Regions from separate parts of the Homo sapiens genome. Here all the other regions are reported to be linked to region 1. Evidence: microRNA targets listed by miRTarBase, many of them from high-throughput screens and not tested one by one. Region 1 holds a microRNA gene; each other region holds the end of a gene's coding sequence. Distances are from middle to middle.

Region 1 (5,076 bases):
CCCACAGTCCTTGGCAACCACTAGGTTACTTTTTGCTTTTACTAATTTTCCTAGTCTGGGCATTTTGCATAAACGGAATCATGTAAGATGTAGCCTTTTCTGTCTGGCTTCTTTTGCTTTGTGTAATGTCTTATTCCTGTTGTAGCATATGGCAGTGCTTCATTATTTTTTAAGACTGAATGATATTTCATTACACAGGCATGACACATTTGTTTATCCATTTATCAGTTAGGAGGCATTTGTGTTGCTTCCATTCTTTGATGGCTATAAATAATGCTGCTATGAACATGGTGTGCACGTTTCTGCCTGGATATATGTTGTCGTTTTTTGGACATATACATAGGAGGGGCATTGCTGGATCACATGGTAAATCGTGATTAACTCTTTGAGAAATAGCAAAAAAGATTTCCATAGAAGCTTTACATTCAGACCAGCAATGTATGAGGGTTTCAATTTCTTCCACTATGTTACTCTCCCTTTTTGTTTTTGTTTTTTTTTTTTAGCCATTCCAGTGGGTCTAAAATGGTATCTCATTGTGGTTTTGATTGGAATGTCCCTAATAACTAATGATATTGAGCAGTTTTTCATGTGTTTATTGGACATTTGTATATGTTCTTTGGAGAAAGGTCAATATGAATAATTTAACCATTCATTAGCTGAGTAAAATACCTTTTAATCTAAATTATAAGAGTTCTGTATATATTCTGAATTATGTGCCTTATTAGATACATGACTTGCAAATATTTTATTCTCAGTACTGATTTTATTATATAATTAAAAAAATTATAAATCTCTTACATTACACACATTTGCTGAAGTCTAAATTGGAGGCTAGTTTCCACTATAATTCCTCCATGACAAACAAACTTATTTAAAGTGCTAGGCCAGGGGCAGTGTCTCATGCCTGTAACCCTGGCACTTTGAGAGGCAGAGGCAGGAGGATTGCTTGAGCTCAGGAGTTCAAGACCAGCCTGGACAACAGGGCAAAATCCCATCTCTACAAAAAGTACAAAATTAGCTGGGTGTGGTGGTGCATGCCTGAGGTCCCAGCTTCTTGGGGAGATGGGGGTGGGGGACTGAGGTGGGAGGATCCCTTGCGCCCAGGAGGCCAAGGCTACAGGGAGCTGTGATTGTGCCACTGCACTCCTGCCTGGGTGAGATAGTGAGACTCTGTCTCAAAAAAAAAAAAAGTACTATTGTGCTGGAAGGTATCACTTGTTTGTAGTATTATAGGTAATAAGCATAAATCCCTATATGTCTATAAAAAATAAAGTTCAGGGCCTTGGTTGCATGGACTCCATGCATTTCTAAAATTCCTGGAGCTGTGAAATAGCTTCATCAACTAATAGGAGTAAAAAAAAAAAAATCACTATAACTACAAGATAGTGGGTTTCTGTCAACTCTTTGAAAGGCATTACTTTATTTTTAGTTATTCAAATTGCTAAAAATTAATTAAGTACAGGCATGAGTATAGGCACAGTGAGAGATAAACAATAACACACAATCCCTGTCATCAAGGAGCTATAATCTAGTTAAAGATGGAAGGATTATATACAAACAAACAGACAACGAACTTTGCAAAGCAGTAAATGACAAATACCAGATGGTGCTATATATAAACATGGCTAAGATGTTTAGAGAATGATGAGGTTTTGCTAGTTTTTTCCCTGAATTGTTAGAACACTAACATTAAAGGTCCTCTTCTTATAAATAAAGTCAGTAAAGGCAAACCATGCATGGGCATAGAATCTGTAAGTGCTCCAACAAACACCTTAGCACTTAGTATGTGCAAGGTCCTATGTTAAGGCTGTTAAGTGTAAATACCATCATATTCTGCCTTTTCAGCTTTTCTTGCATTGTTCAGAAAAAGCTATCCTTTCTACTTTAATACTTGATAACCACTGAATCCTTCTGCCCGTAAGTCAATGAAGTAGTAAATTAGGTAAGACAGACTCCTTGAATCTATTGATAGTTTACAGAGATTGAAAATGGAGGCTCTCAAACTACTTTATTTAGTTGCTATAAGAATTAAATACGTTAAAAACTAAGTACTTAGAAAACAAATTGGGAATAAATAATACCCAATAAATAAGCATCAAATAAATACCATTGTTATTAGTATGAAGTGCTTACTGAATTTTGAGAGATAAATTAGTTTCTGTACTTAATCGTATGGTTGGCTAGAAAGATGAATGAAGGTAGCCTCTAATATATTCTTGTACAAAATAGAGTTATGCCAATGTAATGCATATTAATTAAAATTAATGCAATTATTAATAATAAAAATGGCAAGACAAACATTCTTATGCTTTAATGCTTTCATTCCCTCCATCCCAACCAGAATTTTGTTGGGGGATGAACTTACAACTCTGCAGTGTACTGGGGAATGTGCTCCGGGATTTTGTTGAGCTTTTGATTAGAGCAATCTACTGTGGTTCCTTCACAGCGACACTTTTCAGGGCAAGCCAGATCCGCAAAGCAGTCTCCACTTAATTTTGATCGATAATCTTCTGTACCTATTGAGAATTCAAACCAAAAAAAAGATACTGAGTCTAAAGGTTAGAAAATTTATTAGTTTGTAGGAAGAAAAAAGTAAGATAACTATAGATTATGTAGCAGGGAGACAACTTGGGGTATTTTGGTCAATGGATGTCAGGAGAAAGGTTAAAAGAAAGGCTTGGAATTTTCTGGAAAAAAGAGTGACCAGATTCACATGACAGGAAAACATTAATAAAGTTGAGCTTTTCACAGCTGTACTTTCTGCTGATCCAATTCTGAGTCATTCTAGCCTACTTCACAGCTAGTCACACAATGGATATTAATTATTAAAAAGTTTATTTTTTTTCTCGGAGTCAAGAATTGAAAATATATCCAGTAATAAACATGATCCTATATCTCATTGTAAATTAGGGCTTTCAAGGCAAATAGATATACTCAGGCTTTTAAATTTTCTATGGACTTTTTACTATTCTCTCCCTCTCACATAATCTCGGAGATGCCTAAAAAGCCCTCTTTTTTCATTTTGATTTTGTAGAAAGAGACAGGAAAATCCTGATTTAAGCCTCAGCAGCTTGTCATGCTGTAGAAAGCTGCGTGACGTTCCATGGTGCTTGACGGAACCATGTTTTACTCATACCTCGCAACCACATGGTTAGATCAAGCACAACAGAAAATCTCGCTACATTATCACTACACCAACCACTAGGCCAAAGGTAAGACCAAGAGGAAAATGGAGGGAAGGAGGAGAAAAGCTACAGACGTTCTGGAAACGTAATACTGTTTACATGACATGCATTCTTCCCGCAGAATGTTTATGACCACAGTAAGAGTATTACTACCGATGATTTCCTGGAAACACAAAGAAGGGGCTATATGGAAAAGGTGCCTCCACCATTCCTCAGAACTGCAGAATGGAAACAACAGCTTTCGGGAACAACATCCAGGAAGAAGTTGAAGGTGAGCTACAAGGACAACAGAGAAGCTCAAAAGATCTGTGGTTTCTTCTTGAAAAAAAGGTGCCAAAGACCAAGACTAGAAGAAGGTACATCAGGATTGAAAAGGGAGGGTATTATGTTTCAGATCAGACACTTTTACTTACAGCCAAAATGGTGAATTCCTGCAAAAGTAAAGATCACCAAGAAGGAAAGAAAGAGTAATCCCAATTAAGATTAATATACATATTTATAAAACTAAGCTCTCTTCCTTCTTTCTTTATTATGGGAATTATTGAAAAAATAGCATGATGTGATGGGAATTGTCATGCTTTGTAAAATTTTATAAATAATATTTTGAAGCACGGTGGTCTCACAAGAAAACCAATGTAATAAAAGATGCATAGTGCAAATTAAGTTCTTGATTCCTTTAAAAGATGAACTCTCAAGGCCGGGTGTGGTGGCTCACGCCTGTAATACTAGCACTTCGGGAGGCCAAGGCGGGCGGATCACAAGGTCAGGAAGTCAAGACCATTTCACCTGACGGGTGAAAACCCATCTCCAGTAAAAATACAAAAAATTAGCTGGGCATGGTTGCGGGCGCCTGTAGTCCCAGCTACTCGGTGAGGCTGAGGCAGGAGAATGGCATGAACTCGGGAGGCGGAACTTGCAGTGAGCCGAGATCATGCCACTGCACTCCAGCCTGGGAGACAGCGAGACTCCATCTCCAAAAAAAAAAAGATGAACTCTCTGCAAGACAGATTTTCTTTTATCACTGTAATATGTAGAGTGCCATATAAAATGGTAGTAGCGAGGTACACACGTAAAAGTGAATGAAAAACTAATCATGGAGATCCTCAAGGACAATCATTACAACATTTGGATTAATCCTTATGTTGTGATGTACACTTTTTAATGAACTTTTCAACTTATAAATAATGTGTCTTAGTGGAAATGGAATCAGAATCTCATAAGAAGTTTGCGATGGTAAATATAATCGTTTCATTACATTTGGCAGTTAATGCCATGATATTTACTGAGGATCTGGTGTCTTATGATTTATGCTTCACTCCAAAATGAAATAAGAGTGCACAAAGTCTAAGTGACAGGTACACTGGATATCTTGCAATTCAAATAATCTGCATTCAACGGAACAGTAATAATGCTTATTTTATGGTGGCTTGTTAGGTGGACTCAAATTTTAATTAAAATTTTTGGAAAAAAGGGGAGGAAGCCCAAATGATCCTTTTGAGTCCTGGCTTCTACAATTATCATGTTTAAAGAATGTAAATTAAATTATCATAAATTGAAACTTAAGACATGATATTTGATATAAAAGATAATTTCCAAATCCTATTTTGGCTGCTGTCAGTAACAGGGAAAAACTATATCAGAATATATGAAAACAACCTGACTTTTGTTCTTTATTTAGTGAATTGGAAATATTAAACTTACCAATTATTAATTAAGTATATTTAAATGAAATAGTTTGAATAATTTGATACCAATTACATTACTGCCATAATTTTAGGATTTAAATCATATTAATGTTTTATTCTATAGGTAGTCTGGTGTTTAGAATATGGCTTTTTCTGGTTAAATAATAGCTATCAGATTACTTTCCACTTAATTGGGTAAAGTAATT
Region 2 (5,076 bases), not on the chromosome of region 1:
GGCTAAAGCAGGAGATCACTTGAACCCAGGAGTTCAAGGCTGCAGTGAGCCATGATCATACACCACCACACTCCAGACTGCATGACAGAGTGAGGCCCTGTCTCAAAAAAAAAAAATAGAGGCTGGGGGTGGATCTTGGGTACCTACAGTATCACTTCTTGGGATAAAGCAGGAGGCCCTGTTCTGAAGGAACTTACCGTTTGGCCTGATGGTAAGAACCAAATAGTCAGTTATCTGTGGACTATGAGAATAAAGAGATAGATGTATGTGAAAGAGCTTTGTAAGCTAAGATGCTTCACCCATGTTAGTCCGGTTAGGTGGGTTTAGGCTCAGAGGGACCTGTAGCTGTCCTTATCTTACGTAACAGGGGCCAGATCTGAGGCACAGGAAGTGGGGGTGGCAGGGACCGGGACAGCCCCTGCTGGGCTGGAGCCCTTTCATAGTTGCCATGTGGGAATGTAGGCCCTGTGTGGCTGGACCATGCCTTCAAAGTCTGATTGAGTTTAAATGATGGCAACCAATTCAAGATGCTTTTAAATAGAACATGGACCGAACAGAACATGGTTGTGGGCCAGATTAGGCTGGTGGGTCATCAGTTGGTGACTTCCTGGCATACAGGTTGTACAGCTTTTTTCCAAACAGCACTTCTTTCCCCTCTGTAGGACCTGGGTGCAGCCGCAGGCTCCAAGCGCCCCACCTGTGTGATAATGGTCAAGCCCCATGAGGAGTACCAGGAGGCTTACGATGAGTGCCTGGAGGAGGTGCAGTCCCTGCCCCTACCCCTATGAGGGGCTCCGGTAGCACCTGGGCACCTGCCGCTGGAAGCTATTGGGCTGGCAGCAGGACGACTGGCTGTCCTCCTGCCCACCCACACTGACGGCATCTTCCCAGTTCCCCAAGGCACGCCTTCTTCCCAGGCAGCTCTAACAGCCCTTTCATGAAGGTAATGCTAGTCTTCTGTCCATCAGTGCCATTTCCTGTAGAACTAAAGGCTGTTCCAAGAATGTGGGGTGGGGAAAGTAAATGCTAAGACTAAAATGTGGTGAGTCTGTGGGTGTTTTCTTAAGCAGCAGCTGCTGGTTGGGCCAGCGAGTTGGTGGGCGGGAAGAGTGAAGCAGTCTTCCTCAGCAGAGAGCCCAAAGGACTCAGAGGGTTCTGTGCTGATGCTCAGCTGCCCAGGGCCGGGTGCTTTGGCTCAAGCTGAGAACTGATCCTGCTGCTATCCCAGCATTTTCAACTCCCTCTTCCAGGGTAGATGGGGGCTGTGAGGTAAGGCAGGGGGCCCAGACCCACTTCATGGAAGCCTAAAGCCCCCACATCAGGAACACCCCCATTCCTAACTTAACCCAGGAGCCTTAAATGCCACTGTGAAGCTTATGGAAGCAATTTACCCACCCACACAGCACATTTTAAATAGGAATATGAAGCTAAAATGCATTCCCCCGAGCTCTCTTGCTTAACATAATGGCCCTAGTAACCCAATCCCTTCAAGTATTTTAGACTTGGGGCCCCTTCCTGCTGTCAGAGGCCCTGCACAGGACTCAGTATACATAACAGCCAAGTTCAGGCACCCTGGAATAAACTGGAAATAGCTTGGGCTTGAGGGTCAGATCTGGTTAAAACTCCAAGCTCTCTCCTTTCTAAGCTGTGAGCCCTGTTGTGCAAGTTACTTCATTTTCCTGAATCCCATTACACGGATTTCTCCTATGGAGTTAGTAAGATCTGGTATGGGTATATGTAAAAGCACCTTGCCCGGGGTCTGACATCTAAGCTCCCCGCAGTCAGGGATGCAAGTTGTGTTCTTCCTGCCTGGACACTGGATACCTGCTGGCCATGTTTTTGTTTGCGGCAGCCACCAGGCCGTGCCCAGTCCCTGTGTGTGGTAGACATGTGGTCATAATTTGTCAGTGAGGCTAAAGGTTGGCCAGGAGAAATGAGAAGGGCAGTAAATACATTTGTTCAAAGTTATAAAACAACGGCATTCCGTTCTAACTGGGACTATTTACAGTGGGAGATGGTACATACTGTTGAGGCTGTAGTGGGAGGAAGAGGTGGGCCACCGCTGGACACTCTTGGGCCGAGGGGCAAGGGTGGACATAGCATTGGCATGGCAGCAAGAGACTTGGCTGAGGGCAGGGGTGGAAGGATGTCTACTGCTGAAGACCAAATCCCTTGCCACTCTGTCGGTTGCTACTAAGTCAAACGCAAACAGAAACAGGAAAAGACAGCAGGAGCACAGAGGCCAGCATCTCCCTTTCCTTATGCCATGGAGCCAGGTGCCAGGCGTGGGCTGGTCCATCTCCCTCCTCAGCCTCTGCCAAAGGGCTGCTCCAGTGCTCCCCTCAGTGGAACTCCTCAGCCAGGCGCTCTGAAACCAACCACAGTCCACTGAAGTTGACCACCCTACCGAGACAGACCAAGGCTCACAGGTGAAAACCCCTTTCAACAAAATTCCTTCCAGGTAGGAATCAGAATATGATGCGTTTCCCATCTGCCGGGTTCTGCTCCATGGGACAGTAGGGACACTTCAGCCTGCAAAGGGAGGAGAACCGAGAACGTCTCAGGGGTGGCCAGTAGGAGAGCCAAGCCAAGGTGGAGTAGAGCACGGGGAACTTACTTTCCTCCATTAATGAGCTTATTGAGTGCATCTCGGGAGATAACATGGCCACAGATGAGCTTGATGGGAGGGTTGGAATCTGACGTCTGCTGGCGGAGGATGGGGCAAGCGAACACGGAGTGGTACCAGCACTTCATGCCTAGTTCAATCTCAATCTGGGAAGGGCAGCGAAGCGGGTGAGTTCCACTTCCTGTCATGGCTGTCCTCCCCAGTACCTCTTGCCCACGATTCCCCAGACCAGGCCTCACCGGTAACTCGTCCTTGTGATTCCAGACCCCAGTGCACTGCCGCTGCTCAATCACAGCCTTGATGTTCATCAACACAGGCAGCGCCACACAGCCAGAGGCAAAGCTGCAGACAAGGAACAGGGGCTAGAGTGGCTCAGATCACAGCAGACAGGCAAAAAGGGCCAGCGCGCCATGCTTCAGCATGGACCTTGAGACAGGGCTCTAAAATGGTGCACGGTCAAATCGGTCCTCAAAGATCCCTCACATTGTTCATAAGATGTCACATATGTACTTATGTATGTCTGACTCTACAGACTCATTCTAATGCACCCCAAAATTTGAGAACCTACAGGGAAGACTTCCTATAGCTCTAGGGGCAGATATCTGCTCATCCTAATGACTGAAAAGTCCTTGGTGTGACTAGGGAACAGTGAGCAGTTCCAAAGGGCCCCAGCCTGCCTGTAGGACGTACCCTGCTGTGTAGTCATAACACATCTTTATAATGGTGGCTATCAACTAGGCCGCCTAACAAATGGAGGTTGGGGTTCCCTTCTCGTGACAGTTGCATGGGGAAGGGAGCCTACTGGCTGGAACCTCAGGTGCTGAATACCCCACAGTGCACAGGGTAGTCCTGCGCAACAGAATCATCCTAAGGTGCTGATGTTGTTCTTGCTGGGAAATGACGTTCTATAAACTGAGTCCATGGTAACAAATCAGATGAGCGTAGAATCAGTCCACTATATTGAGGTGCTGTACTCAGACACCATCAACAGTCTAAATACACAGTGACAGCTGTCCACTGTGGCGGAGTGTGTGGCTCTGGGGTCAGGTTCAAGTGCCCATTATTCCCTGCGAGGCCTTGGGCAAGTGCGTGCACATCTTGGGCCTCCATTTCCTCATCTGTAGAAGGAGGATAACGTGGCTCTCCCTCCCAGGGTTGCTGGGAGCTCTGAGGGAGGTGTCAGCAGCAGTGCTGAATACATATTACTCAACCACTCACATCTCCCCTGAAGGCAAGTGGTGTTTAAGACATTAGGTCATGAGGAAGGCGGGCTGCAGAGGGGCGTGGGTTAGCTGGGAAGGTCTTGCAATGATCCAGGGTGAGGTGCAAGAGAGGCAGGGACCTCATTCAGGAGACCTTACAAAATGGGAACCTTGACCATGCCACTGACCTCATGGTGACCTCGGGCCATAACTCTTCCTAGTCTCAGTTTAACTGTAAAAACAGGTAATTCCTCTCCTGAAGAATGACTAAGAAAGCCAGTTTCGGTCTCTGAAAGCACCGAGCACTGTTCCTGGCACATGGCAGGGCCTTGGCAAATGATGATTACCTCTCTACCCTCCCACCTGTGCTGCCCTCACAGGGCTGGGTTGTACCTGACGCTAAGGGGGGACTCCACAGAAAGCCCCAGCAGGGAACAGGCGTCCCGGGTAAAGGTCTCACAGATCTCTGCCCAGTGGCTGCTGTCCAGCAGGTGGCAGTAGGGTGACTTCTCCAAGCCCAGCCGCAGGTACACCAGGCTGCCCATCATCACCTGGATCTCTACAAGGCAACCAGAGGGGGCAGCTCAGGGGGTGCAGGGCTCTGGGTCCACCCCCAAGCGGGCAGCAGGACTGTGCAGCACAGCACAATATGCTGAGCCCGGTGGCTCCCAAGCCCCTGAGGAGACTGAGCAGGGATGAAAATGCCCTCAGGCAAATTTGACTGTAAAATCCACTGGGGAGGTGGAGGTCCAGGCTGCTTCTGCAGGATGAGAACAGGCATTACTAACACAGAATCAGGAATGAGGACAGTTCTTTTCCAGTTCTCTTTCCTCCCCCACTGCATCAAGGATCAAATAAGTCCTCAGGTTGGCACTGGTGTCTCCACACTAATCTCCATTTAGAGCAACCCCAGGTTAAGAGCTTTCAACAGGCAGCAGTATCTAGCTAAAACTTCAGTCATGTTTTGGGGCCGGGCGTGGTGGCTCATGCCTATAATCCCAGCACTTTGGGAGGCCAAGGTGGGTGCATCACATGAGGCCAGGAGTTTGAGGCCAGCCTGGCCAACATGGTGAAACCCCGTCTCTAATAAAAAATATATAAAGTTAGCCAGACGTGGTTGTGGTGTCAGGCACTTGTTTTTTTTGGTGTGTGTGTTTTTTGTGTGTTTTTTTTTTTTTTTGAGACAGAGTCTCGCTCTGTCGCCAGGCTGGAGTGCTGGAGGGCAGTGGCACAATCTCGGTTCACTGC
Region 3 (5,076 bases), not on the chromosome of region 1:
TGCATAATTGTGTAAAATTACTAGTTAAAAGGTTATTATTACAGTATTGTTGTAGTAGCAAAAGAATTAGAAATAATGCAAGTGTCAGTTGAGAAGTTACATACGCAATAGAATACCATGCAGGTATAAAAGAATGAGGAAGCTCTTTTATGATTTCATATACAAAGATCTCAAAACTATATTGTTACATGAAAAAAAGTTACATGCAGAAAAGTGTGTACAAAATACTACATTTGAGTAAAAATAAAAGTAAGTATTTATGGAAGGATATACAAGAAAATGCTTACACTGGTTACCTGCTAGGAAGGGGAGTGAGTGGTGAGGGCAAGAGAGAAGAAGATACATTTTACTGAATACATCGTTTTGCCCCCTTTGAATTTAGAACATGTGAATGTATTACCTATTTAAAAAATAAAAACTATTGCAACGTAAAAAGTTATCCCTCCCCCTTAAACTCTAATCAATAATTTGAGTACTAACATATTGTTTGTCTGTTATCTTAGGGGTTTGATTTGCGACTGGAGCACACTCATTTTTTTAGTCGTCATGGAGAAGGTGGACACTACCATTATGACACTACTCCAGATATAGTGGAATATCTTGGATACTTCTTACCTGCAGAGTTTCTCTATCGCATTGATCAACCAAAAGAGACGCATTCAATTGGGCGAGATTAAATCAGCTGATACTTATTTAGAAAAAGAAATAATTAAGGTTAATTAATTGATTGACTTATTAATTAATACTGATATAAAACCAATAGAAATGATCCCACAGGCCAGGCACAATGGCTCATGCCTATAATCCCAGCACTTTGGGAGGCTGAGGCAGGAAGCACACTGGAGCCCAGGAGTTTGAGACCAGCTTGGGCAACATAGCAAGACCCTGTCTATTTTTTTAAAAAAGTAAAAAATAGAAATTATCTCACTACTTAAATCCCATTTTTTTCACTTCATATGAAAGAACATATTGATAGTATATTCTATATTATTTCATAGATCTGTCTGAAAGAGATTGGGAACAAAAATATCTAATTGAGATATTCTTTAATTTTTTACATAGCAGCTTTATTTTTTTTATTCTGTAGTATCAGCGAAATCAGTCATGTTTATACCTTGAATATAAATATCAGGAATCATGCAATTATTTCTACTATGTATTTAGTAGTATCTTATATTTGTATAACATTATTACATTTTGCAAATTAGTATCACAACTGCTAAGTAGATGTTTCTGAGTATTAGAAAAATCAGTGTTATTACCTGCAGGATATTAAAAAACATTTGAAAAAGAGAAAAAGAAAAATCAGTGTTTAGAAATGTTGATAGTTATTGAATCTTTGAATTGAATTTTAAAAATCCATTCTAGTAATCAGAGTATACTTTTTTTATAGAACAAGGTGGCAGGTGGGGAGCCCTTTACCCTTCTGGTGAAGTTAAACCATAGAAGTTTACAATTTGCCTTTCACAAACATTAGCAGTCCGGGCATGGTGGCTGAAGCCTGTGATCCCAGCATGTTGGGAGGCCGAGTGGGAGGATTGCCTGAGCCTAGGAGTTTAAACCAGCCTGGGCACCATGGTGAGACCCCATCTCTATTATTTAAAATGTTTCTTAAATAAAAAAAACACAAACATTAGCAACTAGTTGGCTAGCCATAATTCCTCCCTTGTTTCGATTGCCAGTTAGAAGCAATTTTTATTTCACTGGTTATTTGCAAGAGAAGGGGTAAAAAAACAGCATCAGAGTGCAACACTGAAGTGAGCTTACTTTAATTTGTAAGTGAAGCTGTTGCTGAACATGACCACTATCGTTGCTGAAATATAAAATTATACTCACTGATTGTAATGGTTGAAATTTTCCTGAATAATCATTAGCCAAAGATCAACTCTCTAATGGTGCTAATGGCAATCTAGCTAATGTGCAAATTTAGGAAGTCTTCAGTACTAAGTACATAATTTTCAAATAATATTTTTTAATTGTCTACTTTGGATGTTAGCTATGTCTTGTGAGTATAAATTCCAATTTTAAGCACTATTTTGATGCAAAAAAATGAATAAAAAATTTAATTTATGATATGTTTGTAATATCTTACCTCCAGACAAAATAATATTAATAGTCTATCATTTAACAAATATGTATTGAACACCTACCCTTCTCTCTGGAGTGTACACTTCATGTGGGCAAGGGCCTTGTTCACGACTGTAGCACTAGTGCCTTTAACTGCTAGCAAAGTAGCCACTCGGATGATTATACCAAACACTTTACTAAAGCTGGGGATCTGTCTAGTGGGGAAGACAAACAATAAATATATAATATGTCAGGTGGTATTAAATGCTATGAAAAGAAAGGAGTAGATGGACTGTAAAGGAGGATGCTATTTTTTTGTGGCCATCCCGCACTGAGACAGGATGCATTCCACACTCAAAATTTGGTTCACATGTCCAGACTGATAGCCAAGTTCAGTGGCTCACGCCTGTAATCCTAGTACTTAGGGAGACCAAGGCAGGAGGATCACTTGAGGCCAGGAGTTCAAGGCCAGCCTGGGCAACAGAGAGAGACCCCCATCTCTGCAAAAAAAGAAAAAAAATTTTTTAATTATCTGGGCATGGTTGTGCACACCTGTTGTCCCAGCTGCTCAGGAGGCTGAGGCACGAGAATCACTTGAGCCCAGAAGTTGGAGGCTACAGTGAGCTATGATTGTTTCATTGCACTGTAGCCTGGGCAACACAGTGAGACCCTGTCTCAAAAAGAAAAAAAAAATGACTGATGAAGCCACACACACACCAACAGAGTATGAAAGGGTTGTTACTCACATAATGAAGCTTTCTGGGGAAAGCAGGGCAGCTCCTAAGCAGGATTTGACAACAGGGAAGGAGACTGACTTGGAGTTTTTTGGTGGTTAGGGAGTAGGGCCAGAGTGATGTTTCTTGCATGTGGTTTGAATTTCCCACTGGTATCAAAGAAGGAAACACCCAGGCTTGCTTGCTTTATTTTTTTAAAGAGATGGTGTCTCACTATGTTGCCCAGGCTGGGCTCAAGTCATCTTCCTGCCTCGGCCTCCCAAAGTGCTGGGATTACAGGCATGGGCCACCATGTCTGGCGAGCACCCAGGCTTTCTTAGCTTGCCAGAGGTGTAGGGCATAAGGGGACGAGGGGTGGGATAAGGCTTAAAAGCCACCAGCAGTCAAACATAAATTAAGTCAGATTCTTAATTACAGATTTCAGATCTGATTTCAGATCAGAGCTTATTTCAGGTCAGATTCCAGGTGTAGAGATCATCTGAAGCAGTCCTGGGCCTCTTCACACTACAGATACCAACACTGCCTTTACTCTTCCATTAGTGTCCTCCAAAATGGGGTGCATGGACAGCAGGTACACATGACCTTCCAAGGGGTGTGGGAATATTAGAACATCTATTTATATATTTTATTTCGTCCTTTTAAGTTTCTGTGGTTTTGTGTACATTTCTTACGTTAGGGATTTCAGTTCAAAATTGTATTGCTGATAGACACAATTCAAAAAGCTTGGAGACCAGGTACATTCACACCATCTAATAGAGATGGGGGAAAAGATCAAAATGCTTTTCTTTTTAAATTTTTTCTTAGTTTTCTTTCTTTATAGAGACAGAGTTTCGCCGTGTTGGCCAGGCTGTTCTCGAACTCCTGGCCTCAAGTGATCTGCCCGTCTCAGCCTCTCAAATTGCTGGGATTACAGGCATGAGGCACTGCACCTCACCCAAAGTGCTCTTCTTACTCTTACATTCACTCAGTATAACACAGAAAGCTTCTGTGACCAGATGCATGGGGGTTTTTCCCACACACCAAGCAATTCTCCAGCAGACATCAGCTGGGGGTCCTATAATTTAATTCAATTCTAACACTATTTACTTGGAGATAGCGTCAGATCCCACAGTTTAATGGTTCAATCCTCCAAGACTGCCTCCCACTTCCGATGCCAATCACAAGCTTCAGGTTGTGACCTGTACTTTTGACCAACCCACTGTAAATCGGGGTCTCTATGCCTACCTCTTCAGGTTTGATTAATTTGCTTAGAGCAGATCACTGAACCCAGGGAAACACTTTACTTATATTTTCCAGTTTATTAATAAAGGATATAATAAAGTATACAGATGAACAGCCAGATGGAAGAGATGCATATGGAAAGGCCAGCAGAAGTCCAGAGCTTCCACACCGTTTCTGGGTGCCCCACCTTCTAGGCATGTCCACCTGTTCAGCAATTTGGAAGCTATCCAAACCCTTTTCTTTTGGACTTTGGCTTTGTTTTTGTTTTTGAGACAGGTTCTCACTCTGTCACCCAGGCTGGAGTGCAGTGGCATGATCTCTGCTCACTGAAACCTCTGCCTCCCAGGCTCACGCAATCCTCCCCTCTCCGCCTCCTGAGTAACTGGGACTAACAGGTGTGCGCCATGACGCCCAGCCAATTTTTGTATTTTTCGTAGAGACGGGGTCTCATCATGTTACCCGGGCTTGTCTTGAACTCCTGGGCTCAAGTGATCCACCCGCCTCTGCCTTTCTTTTGGGATTTTATAGAGGCTTCCTTATGTAGGCAGAATTGATTAAATTATTGGTCACTGGTGATAAGTTCAACCTTCAGCCTTTCCTCTCCTTCAAGGTTGGTGTTGGGGCTGAAAGCCGGAATTCTTTAATCACGTGGTTAGTTCCTGGGCAAGGAGCCCCTATCTTGAAGCTATCCAGGAGCTTCTGGCATGCAGAAACCCACTTATCACTGTCATTTCATTAGCATACAAAAAACCATTTATCACTTTGGAGATTCCCAGGGTTTTAGGAGCTGTGTGCCAGAATACTGGGACTAAGACTATCTATACATACTGCATATCTTATTATACATCACAGTGTCATACCATCTTTCCAAACCTAAAATAAGAACACAGATAAACCTAAAGAATTGTCATCCAACCAGGTGCAATGGCTCATGCCTGTAATCCCAGCATTTTGGAAGGCTGAGGTGGGAGGATTGCTTGAGCCCAGGAGTTTGAGACCAGCCTGGGCAACATAGTGAGACCCCATCTCTACAAAAACTAAAAAATTAGCTGGG
Region 4 (5,076 bases), 86 Mb from region 1:
AGATAATGATTGCAGACTTTAATTCTTTTGAACTTCAAGTTATTTTGACTTTAACATGCAAGAGGATTTAATTTTTGTCCTTTACTTTCTCCCTAAGAAATTTTCAATGGAAGAAGATTTATATTCAAAGGTGGGGCATCTCTGCATTGTTAGAATTTTATTAATGAAATGCTTTCACATATTTTATTATCATATACTCAATGCATCATTTAGTCTCACTGCAAAATCCCTAATAGACTGTGTTAGATGACATGATGGATATAATTTGGGGCAGTTAAAAGAATAGAGAATTATTTTCTAGTCCTGGATATAGAGTGGTCTTGAAGTTTATTTAATTAATGTATTATTTTCATACATTTTGCTAGCTCCTGGGGACAACAGCTAAATTTCCCACCACACCACATCCTGAGAGGATCCATAAAGAAGAAATGGATGTCATTAGGAAAAAAGACTTCATCAGGCACTTCCCCTAGGAGGTAGCAGGTCAGATTTTGGCTAAAACTCATATCTTCACCATAGACAAATGGTATGCACAATGGGTTAAAAATATCTGGGGAAGGATATGAGGAGGGCTTCTTCTTTCTCAATCTTTAAAGTGAGTTCGATGTGGCATGGAATGATCATCTTTGTCTCACTCCACCCCTCACTCACTCCTTTCATGTAGTACAAATTGTCCAGCTTTGGAAAATTTTGGATGAGATTTTTGAATGAGAAATGCATAGTTCAGCCCACTTTCCACCCACTTCATCTTCGGTGTTAACTGCCAGAAGGAGGCCTGTCATTCTGTTCTGCCCATCCATATTATAAATTTTACAGGGCAGCTCCCATAAGATGGAACTGATATAGTCTGGTGTTGAATGTGAATGGGCACAGAATCTATTTCTGGTGTTTAGTGTTAGAATGTCTTCTTGCTCACAGGTATATGCTACATTTTTCAATATCAGCTTCACCAGCAATAGAGTAATCTTTCATTTGCCCATTTTTTAAAAAAATCTGTTTTTCAACTGGCCTGATTTTGAGTGAAGACAATTATAATTGAACGTTTTTCCCTAAAATCCTAAGGCTACAATTACATTTACAAAAGTGTAACTGAATGTTTTCCCCTAAAATACTAAGGCTACTTAAGGGTATTTTATTTCTTAACTAAAAAAAAAAAAATGTCAGGACAATTTGTCACTTCTCAGAGCATCTCACTGAGCACAATAGAAAAGAAAAAGATCGCCTATATGATTGTTATAGTCAAAAGCACACTTTAACTAGAAAATATAAATATTCTCAATTTGAGGAAATGGCCAATGATTTAAGAATATCCTTAAATGACTAATTAACATATGGTGGAAAGTATTTCAGCAATGCTTAAGGTATTTTTAACTCTAACTTCTAGCTGTGGGACTGTTTTAGCTTCATGAAGCAGCCATAGCTACATTTAATTCATTCACTATGTCACAGAATGTTTATTATCCACATATGCAGCCCATTCTGATGTCTAATAAAACATGGGCTCTTGTAGCATCCCTGCTCATACTTGGTGAACACTATTCCTCAAAACACTCCTGACATCTCTGGTTCAGGAAGCAGAGGAAAGACTTGCTTCCCAGGAAGTGGATTTGATTTCACTCAGTTTCTCTCCAAACACAGAAAAAGGTATCGTGTAGCTCACGTTCATTGGTTCATGTAGAAATGAACCAATACTCTAAGCATAATAGTATTTCCATTTTGGAAAACTTTAGCCTAGAGAGAAGATTATGGGGTATATGTTACCTGTCTTAAAGTATTTTGAAGAATTTGTGAAGAGCATATTCTCGTTCCAAGTTGTTCTGGAAGGCAAAATATGACTAAATGGGTGTAAATCACAAGCTGGAATATTTTGGTTTGGAAAAAAAAAAAAAAACAGAAACAACTTTCTAACAATTACAGCTAAACTGCCAAGAAATAAACTACCTTTTGTAATAGTAAACTGCTCTGAGTTATCTCATGCTGATGTCCTCCAAATGATTCACACCCAGTCCTCAAAATCAGACCAAGTCCAGTTGAACTCTCAGAAAGTATGATTCTATGAAAATTCTTCCCGTAGACAAAAGACAAGGAGCTTTGAATTCAGTTTTTAGAGGAGAAAAATTTAATAGATTTTATCTTATTATACATTTTTCCTAAATTACAAAGTCAATAGCTGCAAATATATTCTGCTACAAAGCTTTCTGTAAGAAATATCTCTATAAGAAAATACATCTCATTAACATTTCCTGTAAATAAATTACTTCAAATAATAATTTTTAAAAGGGTGGACATAAGAAAAATATTGCAGAAACCAAATTGTAAATATAATAATTGTTATATAGGAAATGTTTGATTGAAATGTTCCATTTTCATTTCACCAAGCTTATAGCAACCTGTTTATACAAACTTTGGTTCTTGGATGGACTAGTTTATAATTTTTGTTTTTGCAGACCTGTGCAGAAAATGTAAGTCTTAATCATCTTAGTAAATATATGTGGGAAGTTGAAATTTTTAATAGATATACAGGCTCAAACTCAATCTCTACTGGGAGAACTTAAATTTGAGACTGCAGATGGGATTTAAGTAAAAGAAAACTAAAAAGTGAATTGTGGTCTACAAAAGTTTAAAGTCACGACTATAAGATAACCTTTTATTGTTTTGTGCTCCAGACAAAGTATTTAGAACTGAGTTAAGTTTAAAAAAAGTAGTAAAGTGGTTTCAAAGAATTTAGAAACTGTGGTGTCTATAGATTAGCAATATGCAGGTTTTACAAGTTATCCTACTTATATTTTTTAACCGCAATGGCTGCAGAAAACCGAAACTAGCCCTTTGGCAATAAAGCAGATGCTGCAGAGGTTTGGGAAGAAAATTGGATGATGCCATTGGCTAGTCAGAAGCTTATAGAGGGCAATGAAACCTCACTACTCTGTCTACTTCAGGAGTCCATTTTGTGAAACCTCCTGAAATTGAGATTATTTGAGGATCTCAGCACTATAAAATAAATAATTTGAGGATAGTACGGACACAGGACCTCACACTGAATTCATCTGCATAGTAAATATTATGATAGCAAATCCCATGCAGATATTCATTTAGACTGTGCATCCCCTGGTTTCAAAGATGAACAGCCAACTTGTGCCTCAGACATATGATCTATGTGTTGCCAAAACCTGAACAAACGAAAAAGTTTTCCCAATTTTCTTGCTTACTCCAGTGCAGTACAGATCCAGCTCAAGTCTCTATTACCACAGAGTATGTATGAATACATGTATTTACCAATCTAATTCTATCAAAATACAGGTTATGGCCAATCTTTAAGAAATAATGATCTCTCTGTTAGCTCTTTTCCCACATATATTGGACATCTTTAAATTTTTTTGCCATCTGTGAAAATTCTGCTCTGTGTAAGTATTTTACTAGTCACAATTTATGGGTATAGTTTGGAAAATATAATGCATTCAGAGCAGGAATCACATAGGATAAAGAGAGATATACTGTCATTCCGTAGAATCTGAAGGAACTGTTTTTGTCTTGTATCAGTTCTTATTAATTACAGGTAAAACTAAAATTTTGAAAAAAAAGTATTTGTGGCTGTTTGTTTGTTATTTATTTGTCTTCCTAAAGGCCTTCCTAAACAACTGGCCATTATTTTGCAATTATTTGGAAATATTGACTGATTTTTTTCTTATCTACCAAGACTCTTGATTGAACAGCAGAAGTAGTGTTACAAATCAAAAGGTAATTTTCTGTTGTAAATTAACAATGCTCCATGTTTTCATTTCTTGTTTAGCAATTTTATTTTTAGAACCTATTGTATAACAAGTTATTCTAGGAGTATTTTGTTAAACTCTAACGTTGAATAGAAATCTGGCATGTAGGTTATTTGTATAAGCAATCAGCAATCTGAAGGAAACCTCTCCTCCAGCACAACCTAAACTCTTGGAAAGTCACATGCTACTCATCAGTAATTTCCACTGTGTGCTTGTTCTCTTAATAATAGCATTTTCCACAAATGTGTACATTATTTACATAGACAAGTTGCATAATGGAAACACTGGCTGCACTGCATTTGTCACCCATTCTAATCTATTCAGTTCATGTTTTCTTTCTCCCTTTTTGTGATCATCTATATTCTTATCACGTTTCTTATTTTAGCCATTCTTCTGCATCTGAACCTTATTTTCCACCATGCTATAATGCATTAAATACACAACTTCACAGTCTGCAATTGATGATGTTCCTCAATGGTGATCAAATTTTCTGACACACATGGAGTCTGGCTTTGGAGGAGTAGGTGGCATCTTTCCATACTTTGCAAGACAGGCCCTTCGCACAGTCGCAACGCTGGAAAATTTCCAGCCCATGAGAACCCTTCTTGCGTTGTTTGGTACAGACTTCCCCCTGATGGAGCACTGGTTTGCAGATTTTGGTCCAGAAATGACGAGCACAGCAAAACCCTTCAATGCAGTCTGATGATCGTAGGCAGGGGTCTCCTTCATGCCCTGCAGAGATGATGACCAATAGATGTTACCCTGACACTTCAGAAAAAAAAAATTCTATTTTGCAATCAGAAGCACATAAAATATTTTTACTTATACTATCTTCTATGTTGTTACCATTTATAATGAAAAGTCTTGGTTGATACCAATTGGCTCTGCCTCTTATCACATAAATCTATTATGGTCTGTTTCCATTATTTGCCACCTAAATAACAAGTTTAATGACTAGCTAGGATTAAAGAAACTTCCTTGTAATTTTTTCTAAAACCAATGGAATTAATTATCTATATTTTTCTTCTATTTCTTTATTTTAAAAAAACCCCAGAACTACAGATATCCCTACCTTTTATATGTGACATCTTAGTGTGTGGTCTTCCTAGATTCTGCCATCCCAAGTCATGGTTTGAGTAATGACCGTGGTTTCGATCTCTGTGCCGAGTACCATCCAGAGCCGGGATGTGAGGGGTTAAGATGCTTTCAGTAACTGGGATACAGATGCCTGGAGATGATCATATAATCAGTTAGACTAATTCAATTCTATGAAATGTGATACTTATCCACATACTCTCTTGATGTGAAA
Region 5 (5,076 bases), not on the chromosome of region 1:
GCTCAAAAAGCACATGAGAATCCATACTGGGGAGAAGCCGTACCAATGCCAGTACTGCGAATATAGGTCTGCAGACTCTTCTAACTTGAAAACGCATGTCAAAACTAAGCATAGTAAAGAGATGCCATTCAAGTGTGACATTTGTCTTCTGACTTTCTCGGATACCAAAGAGGTGCAGCAACATGCTCTTATCCACCAAGAAAGCAAAACACACCAGTGTTTGCATTGCGACCACAAGAGTTCGAACTCAAGTGATTTGAAACGACACATAATTTCAGTTCACACGAAAGACTACCCCCATAAGTGTGACATGTGTGATAAAGGCTTTCACAGGCCTTCAGAACTCAAGAAACACGTGGCTGCCCACAAGGGCAAAAAAATGCACCAGTGTAGACATTGTGACTTTAAGATTGCAGATCCATTTGTTCTAAGTCGCCATATTCTCTCAGTTCACACAAAGGATCTTCCATTTAGGTGCAAGAGATGTAGAAAGGGATTTAGGCAACAGAGTGAGCTTAAAAAGCATATGAAGACACACAGTGGCAGGAAAGTGTATCAGTGTGAGTACTGTGAGTATAGCACTACAGATGCCTCAGGCTTTAAACGGCACGTTATTTCCATTCACACGAAAGACTATCCTCACCGGTGTGAGTACTGCAAGAAAGGCTTCCGAAGACCTTCAGAAAAGAACCAGCACATAATGCGACATCATAAAGAAGTTGGCCTGCCCTAACAATACTTCTACAGAACGTTTGTAGAGATATTGGCCTTGAAGCAGAAAATTCATTTTAAAGCCAATCAGTCTCATTCACATACAATACTGTATATTGATTTATGCTGTGTACAAATAGAATTATTACTTCTAGTTGACTTTTTTTTAAATATACATTTTGCTCAGTAGTGTGTTCTGAATTCTATTCAGTTTGTTTAATAAATAGGGAAAACTGGCAACATGCTAGTTACTTTTAATAAAGTAATCCCTGATTCTATACCGAAGTTTTATATCTTAGAATTTTATATTTATTTAAATATTTACCTTGCTTACCTTGATGGTACTCTTCTAAGACCATTAACTTAAGGTAACTTTATATTGGTAACTCTGAAAGTATTCATGTTGACTCATTTTTTTCCCCATACATTTCTCACAATAAAATTGTCAGAGACATCTACTAATATAAATGGGAGATTTTACAGTCAGGTCTAATTATCATAACATGGAAGTCATTTACTTGTCTTGCTTAATATTTTCAGACCACTTGACAGTGAAAGTTTCCATTTGAGCTGTTGCGTCCCTGGCTTTGCTGAGTAAAGAGCAGTGGCTGGGTTCGTGTTTACTTTTCAAATATACTTCTTTTGGCTTTCTTTGGATTATTTACATCTTTTGTCAGCGTAGCAAACTTTTAGAAAACCTTATTGAAAAACTGTGCTTGCTCATGTTGTATTTTGATTATTCTGTCTGTGCGGCTTCATCTTGGAATGGTTGTGTGCTACAAATGACACTTACTGAGGACTGCATTTTGGAATCTCCTAGAGGTAACTCATGGCTTATAGGATCTTTTGCAACTTTATGTATGTAAATGTACCCTGAATTATATATATACACATATATATCATGTACCTGTGTGTATTGCTTATTTTACATATTTATACACACAACCCCAAGTAGTAGTTGTTTAAAATCTATAATGAAAAGTATTAAATTTACAATAACATGAAAGATCCAGGGATGCATGAGAGAGCATTTTGTAAGTCATGCTCTTCAGAGAGACTACTCAGGTGAAGAATTAGAAGGAAAATAAGGACACTAGTATTTTTAAAGAGTAAAGATATTTTCTTTTAAATATCTTTGGTAATTGAAACATAGAGGTTAAGATGTTTCTAGGTAGAATGTTTTCATACAATTTCACCTCCATGTCTTTATGTTTTTCTGAAAAGCAAATGAGTATCCAGACATGACTCCCACAGTTCTCTTTGAGAAGCCTGAGAGGGAACTCTGTCTTACCTAGTGAGGGGGATGGAAAAGAAGTGATGGCTCTGTGGACCAGAGAACGGGTGCTAATTATGACTTCACACTCGGCAAGTTCAGGCTGATCTGTTATTTCTCAGTTACAGTTAGCAAACTTTAAAAACTTAACACTCAAGTTGGCTTTGATTAAAAGGTAAAGATGTGTTTTAAGTGGATAAGGAAAGTCTGAGGCCTTATTTGGAACATCACTAAGTCTTCCACAGGTTTTTTGTTTGTTTGTTTTTTTTTGTTGTTTTTTTTTCTTAAGACGGAGTCTTGCTCTGTTGCCCAGGCTGGACTGCAGTGGTGTGATCACTGCAACCTCTGCAGCTCACTGCAACCTCTGCTTCCTGGGTTCAAGCAATTATCTGCCTCAGCCTCTCGAGTAGCTGGGATTACAGGCGCCCACCACCACGCCCGGCTAATTTTTTGTATTTTTAATAGAGATGGGGTTTCACCATCTTGGCCAGGCTGGTCTTGAACCCTGACCTCGTGATCCACCTGCCTCGGCCTTCCATAGTGCTGGGTTTACAGGCGTGAGCCACCGTGCCCAGACACCACATAGGTCTGAATCAGTGTCATACATTCATAAAACAAACTCGGTTAATTAGAACTTGGTTATGTTAAGACGAATCTGGGAGAACAGAAAACAGTTTTTGGGGTCCCTTCAGTTGGCTATTGGTCCGTATGCATCTAGCACATTGTAGGAGATTTAGAAATTGTCTTCCCACCCGATAGCTGCCTTGTCACCTCATTATGGTGCTCCATCCCCTGTGTGCTTAGGTTTTTACCTTTCATCTTTCTCTTTGCCATTGATGTTTGTATTCAAGAGTTATATTTTTAGGGTTAGAAATCAAAATATTTGGTGTTTGGCAAACCTCTGAAGTGCTAGACTGATTTAGTCTAGTTTTAAACCAAGTGCTTTAGGCAGGTGTGAACTCCAGCCCAAATGCCAGTCAAAGTCAAGGCATGGGTTTTCCTAGCCTATCTTATAGGAAATTCCTGTACCTTCTTGGCCCCCATAATGTGTTTTTTTTTTTTTTTTTTTTTTAAACTAACTTACAATTTTGTGATCCGTGATTCATTGCCCTGCGATTCTTGAAAGCTCTGTCTGTTTTTTTGTGAGAACCTTTAAAATCTCCCTTAATTTTTATTTTCCCAGAAATAATGTAAAAACACTTAAATGAAAGTGGAAATGTATTAATTTTAAATCCTATAAAATTAATACAGAAAATATAAATGATTGGGTCATTTAACTATATTTTTTTAAATAAACTGAAAGATAAAGAACACAACACTTCACACATTTTATATTTCTCTTACATACTCCGGAATCATACACAGTTCTTTTTAAAGCACAACATTAAAACCTTTAAAAGGTATTTAAGGGTTTGGTCAAGTGAATATGATAAAACATACTTGTCTGTATAAAGAGAAAATGAAATTGTAGTCACTGTTATGTACTGACATTAGTTACAACCTAGTTTTAATTCTTAAAACAATTTTGATTAGCAAAGCTAAAAAAAAATGGATGTTTCAGTTAAATGTTTTAAAGAGGTACAGATTTTTACAAGGACATAATATAAGTTATTGTTCTGTAGAAATATCCTATTAAATATTGTATGTCCCTCCCTCTGTACACTTTGTAAAGAAAGTAAAATACATAAAAAGAAAATCATATAGGGATGTGTGACATTATTGTAATTGTGTACTTGAGAATAACGTGCAAAAATAAAAATCAGAATATTTTCCTGTTATTGAATGTTTAGTCTATTTGATACCAGTACTAAGTTAATGCTTTTTCTCAAGGAAAAAAAATGTACAGTTTTTGTAAACCTAATAAACATCAAAAGCAGTGGATTATTTTCATCCCCCCATTTCTTAATTTCTTTTTCACAGCAGTGGAATGCAAAGTGCTTGATTGCTTTGAATTTTGTGACTCGGATGCAAATACTGGTAATATTTCAGTTCTGTGAATTTGCAAGTAATATTTCAGAGAAGTTAAGAGGTGATTGGTGAGTCCTTTGATGAGCATGTCCTTGGAATTCATTTTTTCTTTTATCTTCATAAAGGATTTGTTTTATTAGCATCTCCAATTCCCCTGAGATAAATTACTCATGCATAAAGTGGTTTTTGAGAGCACTTAAAGTTCATTTCAGTATTAATTTACAGCATATTTAATCAGTGGGGACTGTTACCACCTCCACAACAGAAATCATGCCCTCGAGTTACCCCACTGCGCCCAGTTTAGAGGACTAGTAGATGCTAACATACTAGGGAATGGTCATTGCCACAGTTAAAAATCGGCAGTTAAGTAAATGTCAGGAGTCAAAAGAGATAGAGTTGTGCCATCTTTGATTTTATAGACAAGATTCTGCAGTTCTTCCAACTGTATGAACAAACGTTTGCCTAATAGTTGAAACAATAAATTAAAATTTTAGGTAAATGACGAAGGGAATGTGGTGAATGTCACTGTCCAGAGCCATAAATCAGACAAAACCATACATAGCATGCTGAAAAACTTTTGTAATGGAACACCCAACAAATGACACCTAACCTGTCTGTGATCCAACAAGTCCGATAACATGCTGCTGTATTTGTATTCTCTGGGAATCTCAGTATTAATAATTTCATTTCCCACAAATTCTAGCATTCATGTAAGGAAAAACATGGCTAATCAATATCTTAAAGGGGCAATCTTTCAGAGCAGTGGTTTTCAAAGTATGGCCGGACAGCATTGGCAGCATCTTAATCTCCTGGGACTTTGTTAAAAATGCAAATTCTCAGCCCCACCCTAGTCCTACTGAATTGGGAAACTGGCGTGGGACCCAGCAGTCTTTGTTTTAACATGTTCTCCAAGTGATTCTGATGCCTGTTCAAACTTGGGAAACACTTTTAGAGCACTTGAGGAACCTAAAAGATGACTGGTTCAGCATTTTGTGTGGTAGATAAGAAAGAAATTATCACAAAAAATCAGAAATGAACAGTGAGAGAAAAATAGGACCCCAGACAGTTTATACCTTCCATTTGCTGTTTTAAAAGTGTGAGCCTGCCAAGTCAACAAGTATGCC
Region 6 (5,076 bases), not on the chromosome of region 1:
GCGGATCACCTGAGGTTGGGAGTTCGAGACCAGTGTGACCAACATGGTGAAACCCCATCTCTACTAAAAAACACAAAAATTAGCCGGGCGTGGTGGCGTGCGCCTATAATCCCAGCTACTCAGAAGGCTGACGCAGGATAATCGTTTGAACCCGGAAGGCAGAAGTTGCAGCAGTGAGCCGAAATCGCACCATTGCATGCCAGCCTGGGTGACAGAGCCAGACTCCATCTCAAAAAAAAAAAAAAAGAGAAAAGAAAGTCAGTAGAGACAGAAAGTAGATTAGTGGATGCTTGGGCCTGAGGGAGATAGGGTGATTGTGTGGGGGAGGTGATAGGTTACAGGTACTGGGTTTCTTTTGGAGGCAATGAAAATGTCCTGAAATCAACTGGTGATGGTTGTGCAACTCTGTGACTATACGAGAAGCCACTGAATTGTTCACACTAAACAGGCGGATTGTTTGGTCTATGAATTGTAACTTACCAAAGCTGTCAACAATAAATCACCATGGGGGAAACCGAAAGGAGAAATGCTGAGACCTCAGTGGGAAAGGCGGGAGGCCAAGTGCACACCAGGAACAACTGGCCTCCTGCCATGGAGGGGAGGGCATGAGTGTCCCCCAGCGAGGGGAGGGGAAGAGGGGAAGGCCTGGGTCCCAAGGCTGCCTCCCAGGAGCTGAGTGATGGCAGGCCATCACAAGGTCTCTCAGGCCTGTCCCCTCTATAGCACAGGGAAAAAACCTCCTATTTCACCGGGATGCAATGAAACATTAGACAAACATCTTTAAAGCCCTTTGTAACATGAATTCTATAAATAGTAATGAACGAATCCTTTGGGAAGAACTCTAACTCCCCCTAAAGGTACTGTCAATCATTTTTCAAAGGGAAATGATCCATAAAATTGGCAGCTCCTTACTTGGGTGACACAGTAGCAATTTTCCTCTTCAATGTCAGGCAGCAGATATTTACTTTCTCACATTTTTCCATTTAATACAATTTCTTGCAACTGTTAGGCCAGTAGATAGTGTGGACATAAATCTATTGTTGCCCTTCTAGAAATATTCAAATAATTTGTATGTGAATCTCCAGACCACCGTTGGATTCATGGACACTTTTCAAAGGATGTTGTCTTTTCAGTAAATAAAAGAGTTTGATAATATAATGTTTAAAGGGCCAAGTGACTGCAGTTTTCAATGCCTCTTGATGTATGAAACACCTTTCTCTAAAGGACCTAAGATATATCTGCTTTTTGAATAAAAATTAGAAGTGACATTCAGAGAAAGTCTTTTGTTTTTAATAAATTTCAATATTCCTATCATGTACCATATTGTAGTAGTCTGAAAAAAACTTTAGACTTGCTTTAAAAAAAACTGGTCCCATATTACACCAGCTGAAACAACAGTATTTATTTACCACGCCTGTTTCCCACTTGAGAAGATCCAGCTCCATGCATGAGTGGGAACCGTTCTTCATACTTTGCAAAGGGGTCACAGGGTCATTTCTGTCTTCATAACCTCTCTGGGAAAGTGGTTTGTGCTCTTCTGACACAGGACGCTGAGGCTCAAGTTCACAGAACCAGCCGTTAGTCAGACCCATTCAGTCCAGGGTTTTACAAAATTGTTGTTTACATCAAAACCAGCTAGTGGCATGCCAGCTCAGCTTCTAACATAAAGCAGTCTGGACGTGTGCAAATGTCCATGCCACCCCACTTAGGCATTTATCTGATCATGGGCCAGGCTTGGGTCGGGCACTGGGAACGTGGAGCTGTCGAGATTGCCCTTGTGCTCCTGGAAATTCCACGAGGGACTGAGCTTGCAGAGATGGAGGTGAGCATTGGCACTTTACCCAGGAGTCATCGGCCTTCTAGTAGAACACCACTCTGATTTCCTCCGGGAGATCACCCTCCGCTAGCACTTCCAGAGGCGACGACCTCACACTTGCTTCCAGGGGAAGCTGACTGGCCTGAGCCACACAGGCTGCTGCACGTGTTAGCACGGTGACCGCCGCAGGCTGCTGCAGGTGTTAGCACGGTGACTGCCGTAGGCTGCTTTTTGCTGCTGTAACACAATGCCCAAGACTAGGTAATTTACAATGAGCAGAGATGTATTGGCTCAACGTTCGGGAGGCTGGGAGGTCCAAGGTGGAGGGACCGGAACCTGGCAAGGGCCTTCTGGCTGTGTCATCCCACAACACAAGGGCTCAGAGAGGGGTAGAGAGAGCAAGAGGAGGCCAAACAAGCCCACTCCTACAATAACAGCATTCACTCAGTCAGGAGGACAGGGCCCTCATGGCCTGACCAGCTCTTGAAGGCCCTGCCTCTTAATACTGTTACAATGGCTATTAAGTTTCAACACGAGTTTGGGAGGAGCCAAACATTCAAAGCATAGCACCTCTCAGCATGGGTTCCTGACTAACGGGGGCCCATATGCAGCTCGCATGCATGAGACACCAGCAGCTACTCTTAGGATTTCTGGGGGAAGACCATGCAGTTCTTTTTGCAGGATTAGAAGCTGAAAGAATGCATTTCTCACAGTTCTGATGGAGGAGTTGAGTTGGAGCCACAAGCCCAGATAGCACTGAGTGCTGGGTCCAGCTGTACCTGAAGCCGCTACCCTTGTCTTCTTTTTTTGTTTTTACTTTGAAATGACAGGAGACTTAGAGAAAAGATGCAAAAGCCATAGAGGGTCCCCAGATACACTTCACCCAGCTAACCTCTTATGCAGCTACAGCACAATGATCAAAACTAAGAGATTAACATCCACGTAAAACCAACTACAGATTTTCCTCACATTTCATCCGTTTGGGTTTGTCTGATGTTTTGTCACGATGAGTGTGATGTTCCCAGAACTGGCATGTCCTCCTCAGGGAGTGGTGTTGGGGGTGCTGATGTGGACGTGTCATTACTGCTGAGGTTCATTTTGATCTGAGGGTGGTGCCTGCCAGGTCTCTCCACTGTGAAGTTACTGTTTTCCCCTTGGGAGGTGCTTTTAAGCTAAGCAAATATCCCGTTCTTTAAACCTTTGCCTACCAATTTGAGAGTGTGTCAGGGGTCTCACCTGCAGCAGCAAGTGCTCCAGCTTTGATCTCCCACCTTCCTCCCACATGAGCAGAGATTCTTCATCCAGGGGCACTGGTCCTTCTCACCCACTTTGTCACTTTATTTATATTAGTATGGACTCATGGATTGTTGTTTATTCCATGGTAAAAATCCAACACTACTGCTATTTTCTCACTCCAATTGCTCCCCTGGGCCCCTGCAAACTCTTCCAGGCTGGCTCCTGTGTCCTTGGACGCAGCCCCACGCCCTCAGGAGCGCATCCTTACGTTCCGATGTGAGAGGGTCCAGACTCATCTTGCATCTTCCCTGCCCAGCCCTGGAACCAACCACTTCAAGGAGCCTTTTCCTTTCATTGAGTTTACTCTGTTCTTTTATGTCAAGTGGGCCAATCAATTCTTTGTTTAAGCCAGCTGGACTTCCTGTGGCCCCACAGCCGTTAAGGAGCAGAGACAGGGACACTTCTCGGAACATGCAGGGGGCCACGAGTGAGCCTCCACTTGTGTGGACGAGGGAGGGAGTGCTCGCCTGGGAAGACCTGGGTTCTGTTTTCCGGGTCCTGCCTGCTGTCCCCTGCCCTGAGCTGACACCACCAACCAGACACCACTCAATAAGCATGGTGTGCACGCGACGAGCAACTGAGATGGAGCGATTCTTTTAGAGGTGTCATGTTTACTTTTTATTTAGGAGTACAAACTGAGACAAAATCATCCTTCCAGTTAGTGAGGTTTTGAGGGATCATACTAAAGAGAAGACAGGAAAATGCCAGTAATGGTGAAGGTCTTGAGAAAAGGACAGGACCCGCAGATAGCGAGAGATCAGAGGAGGCCCTAATTTCTTTCCTCATTTCCTTTCCAAATATCCCAAATGTGCAATGCATCACCTGAGACAGAAGGCAGAAAGCATCAAGCTCTCTGTTTATCCCAATTCAATGACAACCAGAACTTATTTTTTTTGAGATGGGGTCTCGTTCTGTCGCCCAGGCTGGAGTGCAGTGGGGCATTCATGGCTCATCGCAGCCTCCAACTCTCAGTCTCAAGCAACCCTCCTACGTCAGTGTCCTGAGTAGCTGGAACTACAGGCATGCACCACCACACTTGGCTCATTTTTAAAAAATTTCTTGTAGAGACAGGATCTTGCTACATTGCCCAGGCTTGAGTGCCGTGGTGCATTCACAGCTCACCGCAGGCTCAAACTCTTGGTCTCAAGCGATCCTCCTGCCTCAGCCTTCTGAGTGGCTGGGACTACAGGCATACACCACCATGTCTGGCTCATTTCTTAAACTTTTTGTAGAGACAGAGTCTTGTTTTGTTGCCTAGGCTTGTCTCAGACTCCTGGCCTCAAGTGATCCTCCTGTCTTGGCCTCCCAAAGTGCTCGATTATAGGTGTGAGCCGTGGTGCCCGGCCGACAACCAGAACTTTCCGCAGACCTTGTGCTTTTGGACCTTGGGTATCTTCTGCAGGTCAAGCCATCCTGACCACTCTGAGAACTTACCCAGGGTGACTCAGCTGTCACTCCAGGTCACTCATAAGCCCAACGGGTAGCTCCACCCGTGGACAGCTGGATACACTTGTGTCTGTTCTCTAAAGTCATGGATGACCTGACAAGAGGGAAAGGAAAGAGGGAACCTCCACTTCCCTGGGCAAGTTGGAAAAGGGTGAGGTGAGGGCAGGATTCCTTCTCATTGGAGATGGCACACAGAGGGCTTGGCCTAGTCCTTCAGCTGGGAGACCTCATACAGGTACGCGGCCAGCATCTTGGTTCCCTCTATGTAGTTATACCTGGTAGAGAGGAACACATCATTGTGTTGGCTGGTGTCGTGAGCCAACACCCAGGTGTGGGGTGACTCCTCCCGAGCCCAGACACACTCTGCCTTCTTCCTGGGGAGCATCCCCCATCCCAGCTTGGGGGCCCTGAGCCCTGCTTGCCTTCAGAATTCAGCACCCCGGTTCTCAAGTGCAGCTTCAGTCTGACTGCCCAGCCCAGAGACCAATCCTGGTCCCCTAGTGCCCCGGTAGTAAACG

The links. Region 1 holds the annotated microRNA hsa-miR-218-5p (UUGUGCUUGAUCUAACCAUGU, at 3,146-3,166, opposite strand). A microRNA usually pairs through its seed, bases 2 to 8, with sites in the 3' UTR of a target mRNA and lowers its output. Matches are read on the target gene's strand: a 7mer-m8 pairs with bases 2 to 8, a 7mer-A1 pairs with bases 2 to 7 and ends in A, and an 8mer does both.
Region 2: the mRNA of NHP2 is a reported target of hsa-miR-218-5p. The part of its 3' UTR that is shown has no 7-base or 8-base seed match.
Region 3: miRTarBase lists C11orf54 as a target of hsa-miR-218-5p. Seed matches in the 3' UTR shown: 7mer-m8 at 833-839.
Region 4: miRTarBase lists DKK2 as a target of hsa-miR-218-5p. Seed matches in the 3' UTR shown: 7mer-m8 at 3,975-3,981 and 7mer-A1 at 2,656-2,662.
Region 5: the mRNA of ZFX is a reported target of hsa-miR-218-5p. Seed matches in the 3' UTR shown: 8mer at 3,359-3,366.
Region 6: miRTarBase lists CNDP2 as a target of hsa-miR-218-5p. Seed matches in the 3' UTR shown: 8mer at 4,483-4,490, 7mer-A1 at 1,776-1,782 and 7mer-A1 at 1,528-1,534.

Annotation. Positions count from the first base shown.
Region 1 is chr4:20,526,389-20,531,464 of GRCh38, reverse strand. It overlaps MIR218-1 (microRNA 218-1), which reads right to left and starts at 3,190; the gene lies at 3,081-3,190. It overlaps SLIT2 (slit guidance ligand 2), which reads right to left. Exons shown (of 37, transcript NM_004787.4): 16 at 2,366-2,516.
Region 2 is chr5:178,145,425-178,150,500 of GRCh38, reverse strand. It overlaps NHP2 (NHP2 ribonucleoprotein), which reads left to right. Exons shown (of 4, transcript NM_017838.4): 4 at 663-1,038. The coding sequence ends at 788. RMND5B (required for meiotic nuclear division 5 homolog B) reads right to left here. Exons shown (of 11, transcript NM_022762.5): 8 at 4,222-4,387; 9 at 2,866-2,968; 10 at 2,618-2,772; 11 at 1-2,532. The coding sequence ends at 2,469. Among named protein-coding and RNA genes, the nearest start is that of NHP2, 5.9 kb to the left of the region's middle. RefSeq lists enhancers at 3,785-3,834, 3,955-4,064, 4,159-4,453.
Region 3 is chr11:93,761,012-93,766,087 of GRCh38, forward strand. It overlaps C11orf54 (chromosome 11 open reading frame 54), which reads left to right. Exons shown (of 9, transcript NM_001286069.2): 9 at 504-3,738. The coding sequence ends at 677. Among named protein-coding and RNA genes, the nearest start is that of MED17, 21 kb to the right of the region's middle.
Region 4 is chr4:106,919,706-106,924,781 of GRCh38, forward strand. It overlaps DKK2 (dickkopf Wnt signaling pathway inhibitor 2), which reads right to left. Exons shown (of 4, transcript NM_014421.3): 3 at 4,840-4,995; 4 at 2,097-4,499. The coding sequence ends at 4,249. Among named protein-coding and RNA genes, the nearest start is that of DKK2, 110 kb to the right of the region's middle.
Region 5 is chrX:24,210,644-24,215,719 of GRCh38, forward strand. It overlaps ZFX (zinc finger protein X-linked), which reads left to right. Exons shown (of 10, transcript NM_003410.4): 10 at 1-5,076. The coding sequence ends at 733. Among named protein-coding and RNA genes, the nearest start is that of ZFX, 63 kb to the left of the region's middle.
Region 6 is chr18:74,519,756-74,524,831 of GRCh38, reverse strand. It overlaps CNDP2 (carnosine dipeptidase 2), which reads right to left. Exons shown (of 12, transcript NM_018235.3): 12 at 1,378-4,833. The coding sequence ends at 4,764. Among named protein-coding and RNA genes, the nearest start is that of CNDP1, 12 kb to the left of the region's middle.